2 linked regions of the Homo sapiens genome follow. The protein of the gene in region 2 interacts with the protein of the main gene of each other region in a biochemical or structural test. Each region holds a gene or a part of one and is shown on either strand. Other genes may lie near its edges.

The links.
Region 1: of the proteins of XRCC1 (region 2) and RNF146, one has a biochemical effect on the other in vitro, tested with the Homo sapiens proteins (one study listed by BioGRID).

Annotation. Positions count from the first base shown.
Region 1 is NC_000006.12:127,275,180-127,284,918, reverse strand, and holds part of RNF146 (E3 ubiquitin-protein ligase RNF146), read right to left. Parts: intron 4,689-9,739; 5' UTR 4,581-4,688; coding exon 4,579-4,580; intron 4,404-4,578; exon of another isoform or gene 1-4,403. UniProt on the Homo sapiens protein: E3 ubiquitin-protein ligase that specifically binds poly-ADP-ribosylated (PARsylated) proteins and mediates their ubiquitination and subsequent degradation. May regulate many important biological processes, such as cell survival and DNA damage response.
Region 2 is NC_000019.10:43,556,891-43,566,629, reverse strand, and holds part of XRCC1 (DNA repair protein XRCC1), read left to right. Parts: intron 1-5,609; coding exon 5,610-5,720; intron 5,721-9,739. UniProt on the Homo sapiens protein: Scaffold protein involved in DNA single-strand break repair by mediating the assembly of DNA break repair protein complexes. Negatively regulates ADP-ribosyltransferase activity of PARP1 during base-excision repair in order to prevent excessive PARP1 activity.

The sequences.
Region 1 (9,739 bases), on a different chromosome or scaffold from region 2:
AATGCATTAACACTAATGATAGCTGATAAGCTAAAAAAAAAAATCACATAATGTTTTAAGAAAGCTTATGAATTTGTGTTAGGCCGCTTTCAAAGCCATCCTGGGCCACATGTGGCCCACAAGTTGGATAAGCTTGTTCTAAGTAAACCCTAATAGGACGTCTTAGTATGTTAAGCACTATAAAAGCTTTCAAATATTTTGAGATAAACACTTGCCTTCAAAGATCTTGTAACTTGAAACAACAATAAGTTACAAAAGAAGGCATATGTTTTTAAAATAGCCAATTACACATTCCCTGCCTATTTCCTCCCCTAAAAGAATTGGCTGTGCACACATTTTGTTAGGTTTTCAGAAACTTTCATCCCTTTCGATTTAGGTCAAAAAAGTTAGTTTCCATAAAATTCCTGAAAATCTTTTTGTTCCAAGTTCCATATTTATTTAAAGCTCCAATTAAGAAAAAGAAAACAAGAAAGTGATCCATTTACAAGTAATAATTTAAGAAAGATTCTACTCATGATTCTATTCATGAGACTAAATAGAAAAATGGGCTGATGACCACCATTACTTTGGAAAAACAACAGCAACATCTTCATATAAGAAGTCTACATCTTAAACCATCTAAGTACCTTATGAACAAAGGACAGGATCATAAACTGAAAACATAAATAAAAACAGAGTCTGGTAAAATGAAAACAAGACACCCAACATGTCACGTGGACCAATGCCATGCTTTTAAATACATAATTCCAAACCTATTGTATTTGCTTTAAGTAAAATGGGCCCAAGAAGTCAGTTTTCCATCACATACAGCTCGTTTATCTACAGAAAAAAAAGTTTCCAACCTAAAAACATTATCCTCCACCCTACTTAATATGATTAATATTTTGCATGACTCTTACTCTTGCATTTATGAATAAACCAAAACACATAATTTCAAAACTAAGAAAGCAATTACAATCATCCCAGGAGAAGGCATGAATTATAATAACATAATTGGAAAGGCAAAACAATCCTGTTTGTGCAGGTATTTTGGTTCCATCATCAGAATGAAGTGAAGTTGGACAAAGTTAATCTGCAAACAATGGACACCAGACAGCTAAATGGTCATTATTTCATCTGAAGCACTCTTAACTATCAATTTGCCATAGCAATTTATAAATTCTGATTCTGTTTAGCCCATCAAGTATACTGTTAGTCTATCACCAACTAACAAATGGGCAGAAAAACTTAGTGATATTTCTTATTTAATTCTGAATGAGGCACATGCAATAAGTAAGATAGAGATAAAATGTGTAACAAGATAGACACAAAGTAACCCCAAACTGCTAGTCTACCTATAAGACATACTTCAAGGCTTTTTAAAAAACCATTTTAATCTACCCTACACAGTCTCTGTTTTGCAGTTCCAATGATCTTAAAATAGGTGGGAGACTAAATGTATGCAGATGATCATACCAATATGTAAATAAGAAAGCTTTTCCCCTCCCTTTGTGTAGAGCAAGTATTAATGCTAATCAAAAGAGGTATTCCCTATCTCATAAATGTCTCAGAAAATTCTAATTTTGAAAAAGGGAATTTATTTCCAGTTTACTAAACTAAGAATTTAATACACAGAAATTTGGAGTGACGTTAGTCCAATTCTATTAATAAGTATAATACATCATTTACTTTCAAAGACGTTTTTACTGAATTCTTCATGTGATATTCCAACTTTTAAGTATAAATCCCCTTCTTCCAATAGATAAACCATGTGAAATATTTCTGCCAGACTAATAAGAGTCTATTAATACTAAGTCTTCTTCTCAAGAAGACAAAATATAGAGGGGTATGGGCAGAGTTAGTGGAAATCTCCAAGAACTCAGATTTCCTTGAAACTTCTTGGACAACTAGTCAAATGAAAGGCAAAATTATTATAAGCAAAAAAGATCTTTAGTATGTGTAGTATTCAAGAAATTTTTAGCTTGCAATAAAAACTCCAAATATTAAAAATCAGATTTTTAAAGTCTGAATTTAGAATCCAATTACAGACACACAAAAAGGGAACAATCCTACATATAATTTCAAGGGGCTTAAGGATTTCTATGAAGCTGGTCCACATATGAACCACTAATGAGACAAGAGGAGTTCACTGAAAGGTTTTACGTCAGGAAATAACAGCCAGTTTAGTAGCTTCCAGACCATTTGAACAGCAGGTTGGAGGAAAGTTTGGTAATGCAGGAGGAGGTATGGCGAAAGGGAAACTAGAATATCCAGGTAGTAATGCAAGTATAAGATAATTAGAGGGAGGTTGCTGATGTAAGTTTCCAACAATAGAATAGAAGAATGCTAAGGAAAAAGAAATGAAAGCATTTGATTACTGATGGATGGTGACACATTCACCAAAATTCAGAATTTGAGGAGAGTTCTGTCTCAGACATAATGACTTTATTAAGGTCTCCAGGTGGAGATAGGTAGATGACAGCTGAATTTACTAGTTTGATACTCCAAGAATAAATCTGAGCTGAAAAAAGTCTGGTGACTCACCAACACATACATGGTCCTTGGAGCCATGAAAATGAGTAAATGCCCAAATTAAACCTGTAGAGAGAGCAGTCAAAAGGGCCAACCACAGAATCTTGAATTACTCCAATATCTGTGAGGTAAAATAGCCAGGAAGGGGTGTAAGGAATGGTCAGAGAAGAACAGGAAATAAAGATAGACCACCACCACAAAAGCCAACAAGGGAGACATTCGCAAAAAAGAATAATCAAGCAAGTTACTCTAAGTGACAAAAATTTCACCATACAATTCACTTTTGTGTGGTGCAAAAGTTGTGAACCCCACACACTTAATAGCTATTTTGATTTCCTAAACACCATCAATCCCAGTAAACTTTTACTCGGCCAAGACATCTTTCTTTCCCTATTCCCCAGAGACTATCATAAAACTTCTCCCTCCTAGTTTATCGATATACTAACACCTGTATCACTGAGAAATTAGGTAAGTCAAAAATAAATCCTGAAAATCTATCTTTACCTTTACTGTCTTATCATTATTCCTCCTGGCTCAATATGGGGTACTGCTACTTGTTTACAAAGCTAACCCCTCAACATCTAGTAAGTACTGTCCCCTAACTCCTCCAAGACTGATCAATATACTCTGTCCCTAAGTATCAAAATCAATTAAGATTGATTGTATGTTAAATAAATGTAAAATCTGGTAATATAGTAAGTACTAAATAAATGTTCACTCCCTGCACTTATTTTGAAGTCTCTTTCTCCTACCCTGCCTTCCCACATATTACTGTTCCCTGACTCCTCTAAAATGTGTTGATGATTAGGCAGCTGTTTCCCTCCTCATTCCCTTGGCTTGAAAAATATTTCCTAATTTTCTTTGACTGTTAAAATTCTACTCATTCTTTGAAGGCAAGGTGAAACTTATTCTGTTCATTCTGAACCCTTCAGATGAAATTAATCTCTTCCTCTGTTCAGTTTCAATAGCATCTGATTGTTACCTTAATATGGCATCTATTCCACTGTTTGTTAATTACATACATGTCTCATTTACTGGATCACAGTAAGTTCCTTGATGACCAGCACCTAGACTATCTGACCTATTAAGATTTTAAAAAATGTATACAGATAGATAAATGGACAGGATTAAATAAAATATATATTTTTAAAGACAAATGCTTATTAGTATCATTTTTCAATTATCAAATTTTCAATACTGAATAAAAATAATATGGTCATACTTTTAATAATAAATTAATTATTGTTAATACATATCATTACATGTAACCAGTATCATACTGGAAGAGTAGAAAGCAAGAGTTTTATGTCAAACTGGGAAAATGTGAAATAGCATCTACCAAGGTCACTCTTGCTCTAATAAGAAAAACACTGTAATTAAAAGTCAATAAAATATTCACTACATTTTTCATGAATGACATCAAGTTGCATAGGGCTTATATGAATTTAGAAAACAGAAATATATTCATAGTGAAAAATGTTTCATCAATACGGTGAAGTTAAATATGGACAAATCCAAGGTAGTGTGTAACACTTTAAAGCATATCATGCAAAGATAAATGATGAAAGCACAACTAGTAAAACTGGGGATCAGAGTGAAGTGATATGAATAAAATGCAGTGATGTATTATTACATTAAAAAAATCAATTATGTAGAAATTCCTTTAATTTAGTGAAACAAGTTTTTAGTAACTAGAGTTTTTATAACCTAGTAGTCTGTCTTATTTACAAAAGCTAGTACTACTTGCCTAGCTTAGTTATTTAAGAAAATTATTATGTAAAAAGAAGGTAGAACCCAGAGGACCTGGAGATCTATTTCAGCATTCTTTGAGCAAACTCCTGTGTCTTCAGTTTTTCTTATAGAGACTTTTCCTTTTGAGGAGACTTGGAAATCTACATTAACGATAACTTAATGTAAATAAATTGTTAATAAAGCACCTATAAGTCAAAAGAAAATGCTCATTTAATATAATTAAAACTACATATGACAGATACTCAATTTACCACACGTTAAACCAATCCATTTAATTTACTGCAGCACTGAAAAAAACCATGATGCTACACTTACATTTCTATTACAGATCCCACAGATGCCTGCCACAAAAATAAAGCATTTTCTTCACCAGCAGTCAGCCAGCTTACAGTATTTTCTCTTCCACTGCTGGTTCATTCTTTGTGCTGCAAAAGAAAAAAAGAGTAATTAAGATCAAGAGAATCAGTTAATTATGTATAATCCTTTCAAAAAATTCAGTGGAAAACTTTATCTTAAAAGTGGGAAAAATTAAAGACAAGATGCATGCTTTTACCACTGCTATTCAACATGACTGTAAGTTCTAGCAGAGCAAATTAGGGAAAAGAGATAAAGGCATACAGACGGGTAAGGAGGAAGTAAAACTATGTCTATTCTCTCTAGATAGAAGATCTCATAGAATCCCCAAGAAAGCTAATAAACAAATTCAGCAAAGTTGCAGGTTACAAGTTTGACACACAAAAAAATCAGTTGTGTTCTGATACACCAGGAGACAACAATCCAAAAAAGAAATCAAGAAAACAGTTCATTCATAAAGTAACTAAGGGAATAAAATAGCCAGGAATCAACTTAACCCAGGAGGTGAAGGACTTGTACACAGAAAACTATAAAGCATTACTGAAAGAAATTAAAGAAGAGCTAAGTAAATAGACAAGTGATGTATGGATTGGAAGACTTAACATATTAAAATGACAATACTACCCAAAGTGATCTACAGATTCAACATAATTCCTATCACAATTCCAACAACCTTTTTTGCAGAAATGGAAAAGCAATCCTCAAATTCATATGGAATTGCAAAGGACCCTAAGTAACCCAAACAATCTTGAAAAATCCAATGTCAAAACTTACTACAAAGCTAAGGTAACAAGACAGTTTGGTGCTGGCATAGGACAGATAAATACACCAATGATATAGAATTGAGAGTCCAGAAATAAACTCATACATCAATAGCCAACTGATTTTCCAAAAGGGTGTCAAGTCTACTCAATGGGGGAAAACAGGCACCTCTAACTAATGTTGTTGGGACAACTGGATTTCCACATGCAAAATAATTAAGCTGGACCTCTACCGTATACTATATATAAAAGTTAACTCAGAATGAATCAATAACCTAAATATAAGAAATAAAACCATAAAACTCTTAATAGAAAACACAGGAGCAAATCTTCATGGCCTTAGATTTGCAATGGATTCCTAGATATGACATCAAAAGCATGAGAAACATAGGAAATAAATTGGGCTTTATATAAGTTTAAAATTTTTGTGCATCAAAAGACACTGTTAAGAAAATAAAAAGACAAACTGCAGAATGGGAGAGTATCTTGGCAAATCATGTATCTGATAAAGGTTTAATATCCAGAATATGTAAAGAACTGCAGCTCAACAACAAAGACAAACCAATTAAAAAGTGAGCAAAAAATGAGTAAAGAACTTAAAGAAGATACACAAATGGCCAATAAACACACAAAAAGATCCTTAACATTATTAGTAATTAGGGAAATGTAAATCAAAATCACAATGATACATCTATAAGGAGGCTACAACTTTTTTAAAGGGAAAAATAATAAGTGTTGGTGAGGATGTAGAAAAATAGGACCTTTGAAAACTGCTGGTAGGAAGGTAAAAGGGTGTAGCTGCTGTGAATAATAATTTGTTGCTTCCTCAAAAAGCTAACACAGCAATGCCACTCCCAGGGATATAGCAATAGAATTGAAGAGGTTCTCAGACACTTGTATGCCAATATTCACTGCGGAAATATTAGGCAAAAGGTGGACACAATTCAAGTATCTACCAACAGATGAATGGATAAACAAAATGTGGTCTATAAATACAACAGTACATTATTCAGTAATAAAAAGAAATATGTGCTACAATATAGATGAACCTTGAAAACATACTAATAAGCCACATACAGAAAAGTATGATTCCACTTACATGAAATATCAAGAATAGGCAAATTCATAGAAGCAGAAGGTATCAGAAGTTACCAGAGAGTGAAGGAAGGAAAGTGGAGAGTTATTGCCTAATGGGTACAGAGTTTCTGTTTGTAATGCTAAAAAAAAGTTGTGGAAAATCTATAATGGTGATAGTTGCATAACATTGTAAATGAAATTAACTACATGGAATTGTACTCTTAAAAACCTGTACCATCTCAGTCATTAATCTTCTTTCTTCTCATTTAGTATTTCCATCTCCACCTCACCATGTCCACTACAGGACGCACATCATATTACACAGAATAATCAAGAACACATGATAACTAAAGAAATGATAGATCTCACAGTAAACACAAGATAGAGGAGACTTCAATCTTCTTTTATTTCCATGTGGCTCTCATACTATGGGCATCTATCTCCCTACGGTATCTTAAGATTCTAGTGTTTAAAGAAACATATTCTTAATGCCATTATGTGGCCCCTAAATACAAGCTGACTTATCCTACCAAATGTTTAACAGAACAAACAATTTGTTTTAAAATCAGAGAACTTTCAAAAGTAACTGACTGTGATGGTTAATACCGAGTGTCAACTTGATTGGAGTGAAGGATACAAAGTATTGATCCTGGGTGTGTCTGTGAGGGTGTTGCCAAGAGATTAACATTTGAGTCAGTGGGCTGGGCAAGGCAGACTCACCCTTAATCTGGTGGGCACAATCTAATCAGCTGCCAGTGAATATAAAGCGGGCAGAAAAATGTGAAAAAGAAAGATGGGCCTAGCCTCCCAGCCTACATCTTTCTCCTGTACTGGATGCTTCCTGCCCTCGAACATCAGACTCCAAGTTCTTCAGTTTTGGGACTCGGACTAGCTCTCCTTGCTCCTTGCAGACAGCCTGTTGTGGGACTTTGTGATCGTGTAAGCTAATACTTAATAAACTCATATATATATTCTATTAGTTCTGTCCCCCTAGAGAACACTGCCTAATATACTGACTAAACAAGGTTTCTAAGTAACCTTTTTGTTTTACTCTGACTTTAGATGAAATGGACTCCACTATTTTGACTTTCCTCTCAACCCTTTCACCAACTTCAAGGAGCCTACAACTTCAATGGCATCAAAGAAGGCTATGTTCATTTCCTTGCTGCAGCCTACGCCAAACAGAAAACTGCACATTTTCATACACTCCCTATATATAGGACAGGAGGAGACAATTTACTGCTCCAACATCATTACTTTTTCTTTCAAGTCTCTATCACACTGACTTTAACATACCCCATAATCCCCTAAAACTGCTCTCTCACCACCTGTAAGGGATTAATGTCATCTTTTCACTACTGATCATCCTCTTCATCCTAACTCCTGACATGACTATCAGCCTATTTAAATAGCCTTGAAAATGAACCATCCAACACCTATTGCACAGGTTCTTAAACTTGTCCCAACTTCTATTCATCAGAATCACTGAAATTGCTTGTTAGAAATACATATTCTCAGCCCCTTTCCTTAGAAATTCTAGGCCAGTAGACATAGGTTTAAACCTAGGAATCTCACCCCAGGTGGTACTCATGCTTTAGTCCTTCAAATACAATCTGAGAAACACCATCCTCAATTTTCAGTTCCTTAAATCCTAAATTTGAAGAAATTAATCTACTCTCCAGCAACCAAATATTATAATCACATTTAAAGCTAGTTGTCACCTAAACTGCTGCCTCTCTGAAATCTTAATCCGACTCTCAGATCACAAGCTCTGGTTCTTCCAGCCTACTCATTCCCACACCTGCTCTTCAATTTCATGGGGACCTACCATCTCTTGACCATCTCCTTTCCTTTATCCAGTTCCTGATCTCATTTCCTTTCCTGCCCATTCTGGAACCCAATCTTTTTTACTTCTTAACAGAACCCTTGGCCCCCTCATATCTTTATCTCATATACACACATTTTACAAACCCCCATTTCTGCATAATTCTTACAATATGACATCTCAGGTTTCATGTCTTAACTACTTTGTGTTCATGGAGAAAAAGAGAAAGTCCTTTCTCTCACCACACAGCCCCCTGCTCCCCCACCCCAACCAACCACACCATAAATTCTGTCAACTTTTATTCCTAATCCCTTTGGAATCTATCCTGTACTCTCTACCCATTGCTAGTGCCCTAGTTTAAACCTACATAACTCTCACCTGGACTATTGTTCAGCCTGATTATCTTGTGTCAGTATCACCCTCATTTATTAAGCCTTTGAGTGAGATTCTCTCTCTCTCACTCTCTCACACACACACACATACACTCACTCTACAGTCTGTTTCCCAGGCTAGAATGCTGTGGCATGATCATAGCTCACTAAAACCTCAAACTGCTTGGCTCAAGCGATCCTCCCATCTCAGCCTCCCAAGTAGCTAGGACTGACTGATATATTTAAAAGGCAAAATGGACCAGGTTTCTTCCATATGTGAAGCACAATATTGGGTCCTCAGCCTACACAATAAAGACAAAGCTCCTTAGGACAACATTAAAAGGTTTTAAAGATCTAAACTGTAAATAATTAGTCTCTAGTCTTTTTTATCTTCAACAACCACCCATAGATTAATAATCTAGTTGTATAAAATTACTCATAGTCCTGCAAACCTCCCTTTGTAGCTCTGTATTTCCTCCTGCCTGGTACGATCTATTCCCTTTTACAGCTTATGAATGCCTATTTGTTCTTTAATATATTACACAGAAATGGTTATCTCTACCATTTTCTCTGACTACCTCCAGAAAGTTAACTGTTCTCTCCTCTATGTTTTGTATGTTTTTCTATTACGGAATTTATCACATGCACTAATTTCAATTCATTTGTGAAGTCTGACTCTTCTGTGAAATCATGAATCCCCTGAAGATAGGGAGATTTTTATATCTTTAAATAGCTAGTAAATTGTCAATCAATTTTTGTTGAACTGATATTTTTTGGATGAATGAAAAATCAACTCCTAAAAGTAACTATTGTGAGGAACAGAATATCAAAGGATTAGATTTATTCAAATAACACAACACTTGAGTTCTAATTGTGAACTCAAGCTGGAATCTGTAAGATACATAAAAATATCTAAGTTCTAATCCTTGCTTTATATAACTTAAAATCTAAAGGAGTTCCTACATTTACAAATATAAAATTCAACCCATCTTTGTATCTTTTGGCAAGCAAATCATTTACCCAGCTATTGTTCATTGTCAATGAATTCTCCAAAATGGAGATAAAAATCTAAGCATAAACCAAGATGG
Region 2 (9,739 bases):
TGGGATTACAGGCGTGAGCCACCACCCCAGCCTCCATGTATAAACATTTTTATCAGATTCTTAAAAAGTATTTATTTACTTTTTTTTTTTTTTTTTTTGAGACAGAGTCTTGCTCTGCCACCCAGGCTGGAATGCAGTGGCATGATCTTGGCTCACTGCAACCTCCGCCTCCTGGGTTCAAGCAATTCTCTGCCTCAGCCTCCCGAGTAGCTGGGATTACAGGCGCCTGCCACCATGCCTGGTTAATTTTTGTATTTTTACTAGAGACGGGGTTTCACCCTCTTGGCCAGCCTGGTCTTGAACTCTCCTGACCTTGTGATCTGCCAACCTCTGCCTCCCGAAGTGCTAGGATTACAGGCCTGAGCCACCGTGCCTGGCCACTTTTTTTTTTTTTTAGATGGAGTCTCACTCTGTCACCCAGGCTGGAGTGCAGTGGCATGATTTCGGTTCGCTGCAACTTCTGCCTCCCAGGTTCAAGTGATTCTCTGGCCTCAGCCTCCTGTGTAGCTGGGATTACAGGTGCACGCCACCAAGTCTGGCTAATTTTTATATTTTTAGTAGAGACAGGGTTTCACCATATTGGTCATGCTGGTCTTGAACTCCTGGCCTCAAGTGATCTGCCTGCCTTGGCCTCCCAAAGTGCTGAGATTACAGGTGTGAGCCACTGTGCCCAGCCTGTTGTTTTCTCTCTTGAGACAGAGTCTCACTTTATCACCCAGGCTGGGGTGTAGTGGCTCGTCTCAACTCACTGCAACCTCCACCTCCCAGGTTCAAGTAATTCTTGTGCCTTAGCCTCCTGAGTAGCTGGGATTATTGAGGTGCGTGTCACCACACCCAGCTAACTTTTTTTATTTTTGGTAGAGACAGGGTTTTGCTATGTTGGCCAGGCTGGTCTCGAACTCCTGGCCTCAAGTGATTCTCCCGCCTCCACCTCCCACGGTGCTGGGATTACAGGCGTGAGCCAGTGCTCCTAGCCAGGACTTTTTTTATATACAAAGAAGAAATGTCAGGGAGTGCCTGTTTAAAGTAGAAATAGTTATATATGCAGTAGGAATTGTTCATTTAAAATACAAGCATCTCCATCCTACCACATTTAGGAGCTATGCTGAATATTGTGGGAGAGGTAAAGATGTTGAGTTTGACTCAGGGATGGAAAGAAAGGAGTTGAGAACAGTGGTGGTATTGGACAGTGCTTTGCAGTCAGGCAGTTGCGTCCGAAGTACTCTGCTAGTTATTAGCTTGTGTGCCATGTAAGCTATTGATTAAACCTGTCTGAGCCTCAGTTTCCCCATCTGTGAAACTGGAGTCGTAACAGACCCTTCTATTTAAAGTGGTTTTGAGGCTTCAGTGATGCCCGGCCCATGCTTAGCCAAGTGTGGTGGACAGAACAGTGGTGCTCAAAAGATGTTCATGTCCTCATCCCCAGAACCTGGAAATATTTTAATGGCCAAAGGAGCTCTGTGGGTTTGATTAAATTAAGGATCTTGAGATGGGGAGAGTGCCCTGGATTATCTGGTGGGCCTCACGTAACCCCCAGAGGCCTTATAAGGGAAAGAGGGAGGCAAGAGAGCTGGAACCAGAGCTGTGAAGATGCAAGCAGAGCCTGGAGTGATGCCAGCGCTTTCAGCAGCTTTGAAGACGAGGAAGGGACTGTGAGCCAAGGAAGGCAGGTGGCCTCGAGAAGCCGAAGATGCAAGGAGACACGTTCTCCTCTAGTGCTCCCGGAAGGAAGGAATGCAGCCCTGCCGCATCTAGATTTTAGCCCTGTAAGGCCGAGTTTCAGACTTTTGACCTCCAGATCTGTAAGATATTAAATTTGTGTGTTTTTTTTTTGTTTTTTTGAGACGGAGTTTCGCTCTTCTTGCCCAGGCTGGAGTGCAGTGGTGTGATCTCGGCTCACTGCAACCTCCGCCCCCCCGGTTTAAGCAATTCTCCTGCCTCAGCCTCCTGAGTAGCTGGGATTACAGGCATGCGCCACCACGCCTGGCTAATTTTGTATTTTTAGTAGAGACGGAGTTTCTGCATTTTGGTCAGGCTGGTCTCGAACTCCCTACCTCAGGTGATCCGCCTGCCTCAGTCTCCCAAAGTTCTGGGATTACAGGCGTGAGCCACTGCGCCTGGCCAAATTTGTGTTTTTAGCCACAAAGTTTGTGCTAATTTGTACAACAGTAACAGGAAACTCATACACCAAGCACCTGGCACATGGTGAGAATCCGAAAATGTTAGCCATGATGATCCTCTTGTGACAGATGGGACACCCAGGCAAGCAGCAGAGAAGGGGCTCAACAGGGCCACTTGGTAAGGGAGGACAGAGCCAGAGTTACTGCTTAATAACTCTTGAGTAGTAACTTCTGCAAACGGTTGCTGGGCGCCTGTTCTGCGTCTGTCTGTACATCCATTGGGAATGCAGTAGAGGCCTGCTGTGTTAATGATATTCGCAGCTGACATTTATGTAGTGTTTGCTCGGTGCCAGGCAGTATTCCAGGCACTTGGTATGTTATTTCTCATTCTTGGTATGGATTTGAATGTTCTCAACAACTTTATGAGATAGACGTTGTTATTGTCCCCATTTCATAGGTTCGAAAACTGAGGCACAAGGGGTGAAATGAAACCATTTGCTCCAGGATCACACAGCAGGAAATCAGCAGAGCTGGGAAGGACCAGACACTGTTCTTGGCCTTGGGGACACAGTAGGGAACAACTCAGACGATACTGTCCTTGCTCTTGTGGAGCTTAAAAGTCTGGCGGGAGAGACAGATGCTAGACAAATACAAACAAAAAAGATGTAACTGTGTAACACCAGGCAGTAATCATGAAGAAAAGTAAAGTCGGGTAGGGAGATAGAGAGTGGCACCAGGTAGGGGGCGAGGTAGGTTACTTATGGTCTGAAGTGACATCTGAGTGGGCACCTGAAGCACAGAAGGCAAACTTTTACCCAGCTATGGATATGTTTGAGGGAAGAGTGGTCTAGGCAGGGGGATTGGCAGGTGCAGAGGCCCTGAGGTGGGAAGGAGCCAGACTGTTCTTGGCACAGAAGGGAGGCCGTTGTGGCTGGTGGAAAGTCACCAAGCCTGGCCTGGGGAGCAGTCAGACTGGGACTTCTTGTTATTGTTGTTTTTGTTGTTGTTGTTGTTTTTGAGACAGAGTCTCACTCCATCGCCCAAGCTGGAGTGCAGTGGCACAATCTCGGCTCACTGCAACCTCTGCCTCCCGGGTTCAAGTGATTCTCCTGCCTCAGCCTCCCCAGTATCTGGGATTACAGGCGCTCACCACCATGCCCGGCTAATTTTAATTTTCATATTTTTAGTAGAGACAGGGTTTCACCATGTTGGCCAGGCTAGTCTCAAACTCCTGACCTCAAGCGATTCACCTGTCTCAGCCTCCCAAAGTGCTGGTATTACGGGTGTGAGCCACCACACCTGGCCCAGACTGGGACATCTCATGAGCCCAGGCAGCACTGTACACTGCCCAGGGCCCAGGGCTGGGAATGGCGGTGGAGGCAGGGGAGTCAGCAGGAGGTCTGCCGGCCTCAGCCTTAGGCAGGCCCTTCCTCCAGCACCATCTTCCTCCTCTAGCACGTCAGTGGTGTGATGGAGGAGCACGCGTGGACTGTTGCCAGCCTGCCTGGGTTCCGGTCCGGCTTTGCCACCCACCAGCTGTGAAGTTACATAACCACTTCCTGCCTCCGTTTGCTCATGTGTAAGATGGAGATAATTATAGCAACTGCCTGGCAGAGCCATTGCAGGAGAGTAGATACATGTATTATTAGCAGGAGTCTGGCACACCAGGAGCGCTCAGTGCACTCGGATGTTGGCCGCAGTTGTGGTTATAGTTGTTAATTCTGTGTCATCTCAACTTCCTTCAGAGGGAGGGTAAGTTTTTTTTTGAAGACAAGGTCTCATCACTCTGTCGCCCAGAGTACAGTGATGCGAACATGACTCACTGCAGCCTTGACCTCCCCAGGCTCACGCGATCCTCCTTCCTCAGCCTCCTGAGTAGCTGGGACCACAGGTATGTGCCACCATGCCTTGCTAATTTTTGTAATTTTTGTAGAGACAAGGTCTGGCTATGTTGCCCAGGCTGGTCTTGAACTCCCAGCCTCAAGTGATCCTCCCACCCCAGCCTCCCAAAGTGCTGGTTATAGAGACGTGAGCCACTGCGCCTGGCCAAGGAGGGAGGGTTGTTAATGACCATCTTCCCTTTTTGCATGTGAGGAAACTGCCTCACAGAGACGTTGAATACGTCACCCAAGGTTGTGCAGGTTGGAAATGGCATTGCTGTATTTGAGCCCAGGCCTACCTCACCCCAAGTCCAGGCTCCCTCCTTCCATACAGTGGTGTTCCTGTTGATAGCAGTGTGCAGGTGATGTCTAGATGATCTGACAGGGAGGCAACAGAGCAGATTGGAGCATCTGTCATCACCAGGGGTGGGAGAGGGCAGTGTAGGGTGGACTAGGTACCTTGGTTTTTTTTTTTTTTTTTTTTGTGACAGAGTCTCGCTCTGTCACCCAGGCTGGAGTGCAGTGGCATGATCTCTGCTTACTGAAACCTCTGCCTCCTAGGTTCAAGAGATTCTTGTGCCTCAGCCTCTTGAAGAGCTGGGACTACAGGCATGTGTCACCATGCCCGGCTATATTTTATATTTTTAGTAGAGAAGGGGTTTTGCCATGTTGGCCAGGCTGGCCTCAAGTGGTCCACTGCCTTGGCCTCGCAGAGTGCTGGATTTACAGGCTTGAGCCACTGCACCTGGCCCAGGTACCTTTGAGAGTTGTAATAATGCGTCATTCTAGGATCCTAATAAAAGAGCCCCAAACTGGAAGGCAGGACACTTGCCTCAACCTAACTGCCTCCCGTGCCCGCATGGCCCGCACGGCTTTCTGCATCTTCATCTGTCAGACAGGAATGGCAGATCCTTTGAGATGAGCCCTCCTATAGGTAGCTCTTTTCTTCTTTCAACAAATAGTTGTCTAGCACTGACTAATAATACCTCCTGACTGACAGCAGATAATTGCCTACTCTTCGCCATGCCCTGTGGCCATTATTTATGTGCATGATCCTAGATATGGTGGTCATTCCCATTTTACAGATGAGAAAACTGAGGCTCCAAAAGGTTAACTGGTATGGTCATACAGCTAGTGTGCAGCACAGCTGGGATTCAAACCCAGGAACCAGCGGTGAGCAAGATCGGACAAAGCCCCTGCCCTCAGGGAGGTTTCCTGGAGTCCTCTGCGATTGTGGGTGAGGGGTGACATGTGCTGTTTGTCTGCATGATGATTTGAATAAAGTTATAACTCTGGCAAGTGCTTATCAAGGAGAGCTCTATGGCAGTGTGTGATAAGCTGACCTGGTGGAGTCTGGAGAGGTCAGGGAAGCAGGTATGTGTGAGGTGGGCGCGTATGCATTCATTCAGTGACTATTTTGTGAGTTTCTGCTCCATGCCATACCCTGTGCTGCATGGAGGGGACACATGGCACCATTCAACCCTGGTGTGCCCCCTCACAGAATTGACATTACAGGGACATGGTGATCCAAAGGAGATTCATCCTGAGGTCCCACAGTGAGCCCAGAGGCAGAGCAGGCACTGACAGTGGCCTCTCTCTCTGCCCACAGTTGGAGAAGGAGGAGCAGATACACAGTGTGGACATTGGGAATGATGGCTCAGCTTTCGTGGAGGTGCTGGTGGGCAGTTCAGCTGGAGGCGCTGGGGAGCAAGACTATGAGGTAAGCAGGGCTATGAGATGGATCCCATACTGACCTCTGCCCCTCATGCTCGCATCACCGTCTCCCCCAGGGGCTGGGGCTGGGAAGACATGGGGCAGATGTGAGTCACACCTGATTGCTGCCCTCTGGAGGATCACCCAGTGTACGGAGGAGACAGAAGGCAGACACAGGGCGGTAAACTGCACATCAGGGAAGAGAGCAAGTTTGGATCATGGCTTAAAATGACACAAATGTATTATTCGACTGTTCTGGAGGTCAGAAGTCTGAAATCACTCTCACTGGGCTAAAATCTAGGTGTAGGCAGAGCCCTGTTCCTTCTGGAGGCTCTAGGGGAGAATCCATTTCCTTGCCTATTTCAGCTTCTAGAGTCCATCTGCCCTCCTCAGCTTGTGACCCTTCCTTCATCAAAGCCAGCACTCCTGTCACTCTAACGCCTGCTTCCACTTCCATTGTTACTTCTCCAACTCTGACTCTCTTGCCTTCTTTTTTTCTTTTTCTTTTTTTTTTTTTGAGACGGAGTCTCGCTCTGTCGCCCAGGCTGGAGTGAGTGCACTGGCGCGATCTCAGCTCCTTGCAACCTCTGCCTCCCGGGTTCAAGCTATTCTTCTGCCTCAGCCTCCCGAGTTGCTGGGACTACAGGTGCCCACCACCACGCCCGGCTAACTTTTTTTTTTTGTATTTTTAGTAGAGACGGGGTTTCACCATATTGGCCAGGCTGGTCTCGAACTCCTGACCTCGTCATCTGCCCGCCTCAGCCTCCCAAAGTGCTGGGATTACAGGCGTGAGCCACTGCGCCTGGCCTTCTTTTTCTTTTGTTCATTTTTTTTTGAGACAGGGTTTCATTTCCGTTGCCCAGGCTGGAGTACAGTGGCGTGTTCTCAGCTCACTGCAACTTCTGCCTCTGAGGTTCAAGTGATTCTCCCACCTCAGCCTCCCAAGTAGCCAGGGCTACAGGTGCACACCACCACTCCTGGCTAGCTTTTGTTATTTTTTATAGAGAGAGGGTTTCACTGTGTTGCCCAGGCTGGTCTCAAACTCCTGGGCTCAAGTGATCCACCCACCCCAGCCTCCCAAAGTGCTAGGATTACAGGCATGAGCCACCACACCCAGCCCTCCTTTCTTATAAAGACCCTTATGATGACACTTGGCCTACCCGGATAATCCAGGGGCATCTCCCCCATTTCAACATCTTCAAGTTCATCACATCTGCAAAGTGCCTTCTGCCACATTTCCAGGTTCAGGGATTAGGATGTAAACATCTTTGAGGAGCTGTTATTCTGCCTGTCTCCTATGTTTTCTTCTAGAAGCTTTCTATTTTTAGATTTTACATTTAGATCTCTGTTTCATCTCAAGTGAATTTTTGTGTATTGTGTGAAGCAGGGGATAAGGTTTATTTTTTCTGTATCTTTTTTTTTTTTTTTTTTTTTTTTGAGATGGAGTCTCACTCTGTTGCCCAGGCTGGAGTGCAGTGGCGCGATCTCGGCTCACTGCAAGCTCCACCTCCCGGGTTCACGCCATTCTGCCTCAGCCTCCGGAGTAGCTGGGACTACAGGCACGTGCCACCATGCCCGGCTAATTTTTTGTATTTTTAGTAGAGACAGGGTTTCACTGTGTTAGCCAGGATGGTCTCGATCTCCTGACCTTGTGATCTGCCCACCTTAGCCTCCCAAAGTGCTGGGATTACAGGTGTGAGCCACCGCACCCGGCCCTTTTCTGTATCTTTTTTATATGTTTGTTGACAATGCTTATTTATTTATTTTATTTATTTTAAGACAGAGTCTCACTCTGTTGGCCAGGCTGGAGTGCAGTGGCATGATCTTGGCTCACTGCAACCTCCGCTTCCCAGACTCAAGGGATTCTCCAGCCTCAGCCTCCTGAGTAGCTGGGACTATAGGTGTGAGCCGCCATACCCGGCTAATTTTTTAAAAAATTTTTTGTAGAAATGGGGTTTCACTACATTGCCTGGCTGGTCTTGAACTCCTGAGCTTAAAGTGATCCTCCCACCTTGGCCTCCCAAAGTATTGGGATTACAGACCTGAGCCACTGCACCTGGCTGAAAATACTTTGAAAAAAAAAAAAAGACTTGCCTTTTCTCATTGAATCATTTTGACTCCTTGTTGAGAATTAATTAACCATATGTATGGGTTTATTTCTGTACTCTCTTCTCTGTTCCATTGATATGTATAGTTTTCTTTATGCCAATACCAAACTGTCTCTTTTTTTAACCATATTATTTATTTATGTATATATGTATTTATTTATTTATTTATTTATTTATTTGAGATGGGGGTCTCACTCTGTTGCTCAGGTTGGAGTACAGTGGCATGATCTCAGCTCACTGCAACCTCTGCCTCCTGGGCTCAAGTGATCCTCCCGCCTCAGCCCCCCAAGTAGCTAGTGGGAGCCATCATGCCCGGCTAATTTTTAAATATTTTTTGTAGAAATAGGGTTTCACTGTGTTGCCCAGGCTGGTCTTGAACTCCTGAGGTCAGGTGATCCACCTGCTGCGGCCTCCCAAAGTGCTAGGATTACACATGTGAGCTGCTGTGTGTACCTGGCCTACTCTTTTTTTTTTGAAACGAGGTCTCACTTTGTCACCCAGGCTGGAGTGCAGTGGCACGATCTCAGCTCACTGCAGCCTTGTCCTCCCGGGTTCAAGTGATCCTCCTTCCACAGCCCCTCAAGTAGCTGGGACTACAGGCTTGCACCACCATGCCCAACTTTGCACTAGTCAGTGTGACAAGGTGAGAAAAAGAAAAAAGAAAACTATCTTTTTTCACAGATGGCATGATTGTCTATGCAGAAAATCCCAAGAGATCTAGACAAACTACAAGGTTTAGTAAGTGAAGGTCACAAGATGAGAAGTCAATATACAAAATAAACTGTATATTACACATCACTTCTGTGGTATTCTGGCCAAAGTGTGCAACCTAAATTAATCACAAGGAAACATCAGATACTTTGTACAATAAGTGATATCTGACAAAAATCACTGACCTCTACTCTTCAAAAACATCAAAGGCACAAACCCAAAGTCACAGGAGCCTTCCTTCCTTCCATTCTCCCTCCCCTCCTTCCCTCCCTCCTTCCTTTTTTTTTTTTTTTTTTTTTTTTTTTGAGATGGAATTTTGCTCCTGTTGCCCAGGCTGGAGTGCAGTGGTGCAATCTCGGTTCACTGCAACCTCCGCCTCCCAGGTACAAACGATTCTCCATCTTAGCCTCCCAAGTAGCTCGGATTACAGGCCTGTGCCACCATGCATGGCTATTTTTTTTGTATTTAGTAGGACAGGGTTTTCCCATGTTAGTCACCAGATGATAAATGCAGCTTCCCTGTCAGCTCCAAATCAGGCCTTTTATAAACAAGTATAGTCAAGGTCAGGAAGAAAACTTCCCTTCTGTATAATTGTCTTTCTTGTTTCCTTTGCATAATCAGCTGTGCACAAAGAGAGCTATAGTTATGTTCTGTTTTTCTCAGCAAAAGGCTTTATTGTCCAATTTTATAATTTCACAGCATGTCAGTTAGAAAAGAGACTAAGTCAGTAACAAAATATACCCAACCAAAAGTGGCTGCATTCATCTTTTTTTTTTTTTTTTTTTTTTTTGAGACGGAGTCTCGCTCTATTGCCAGGCTGGAGTGCAGTGGCGCAATCTTGGCTCACTGCAACCTCCGCCTCCTGGGTTCAAGTGATTCTCCTGCCTCAGCCTCCCGAGTAGCTGGGACTACAGGCACGCGCCACCATGCCCAGCTAATTTTTTTGTATTTTTAGTAGAGATGGGGTTTCACTATGTTGGCCAGGATGGTCTCGATCTCCTGACCTCGTGATTTGCCTGCTTTGGCCTCCCAAAGTGCTGGGATTACAGGTGTGAGCCACTGTGCCCAGTCTTTTTGTTTCGTTTTTTGTTTTTTGGCAGAGTCTTGCTCCGTCACCCAGGCTGGAATGCAGTGGCACAATCTCGGCTCACCATCACCTCCAACTCCTGGGTTCAAGCGATTCTTGTGCCTCAGCCTCTCGAGTAGC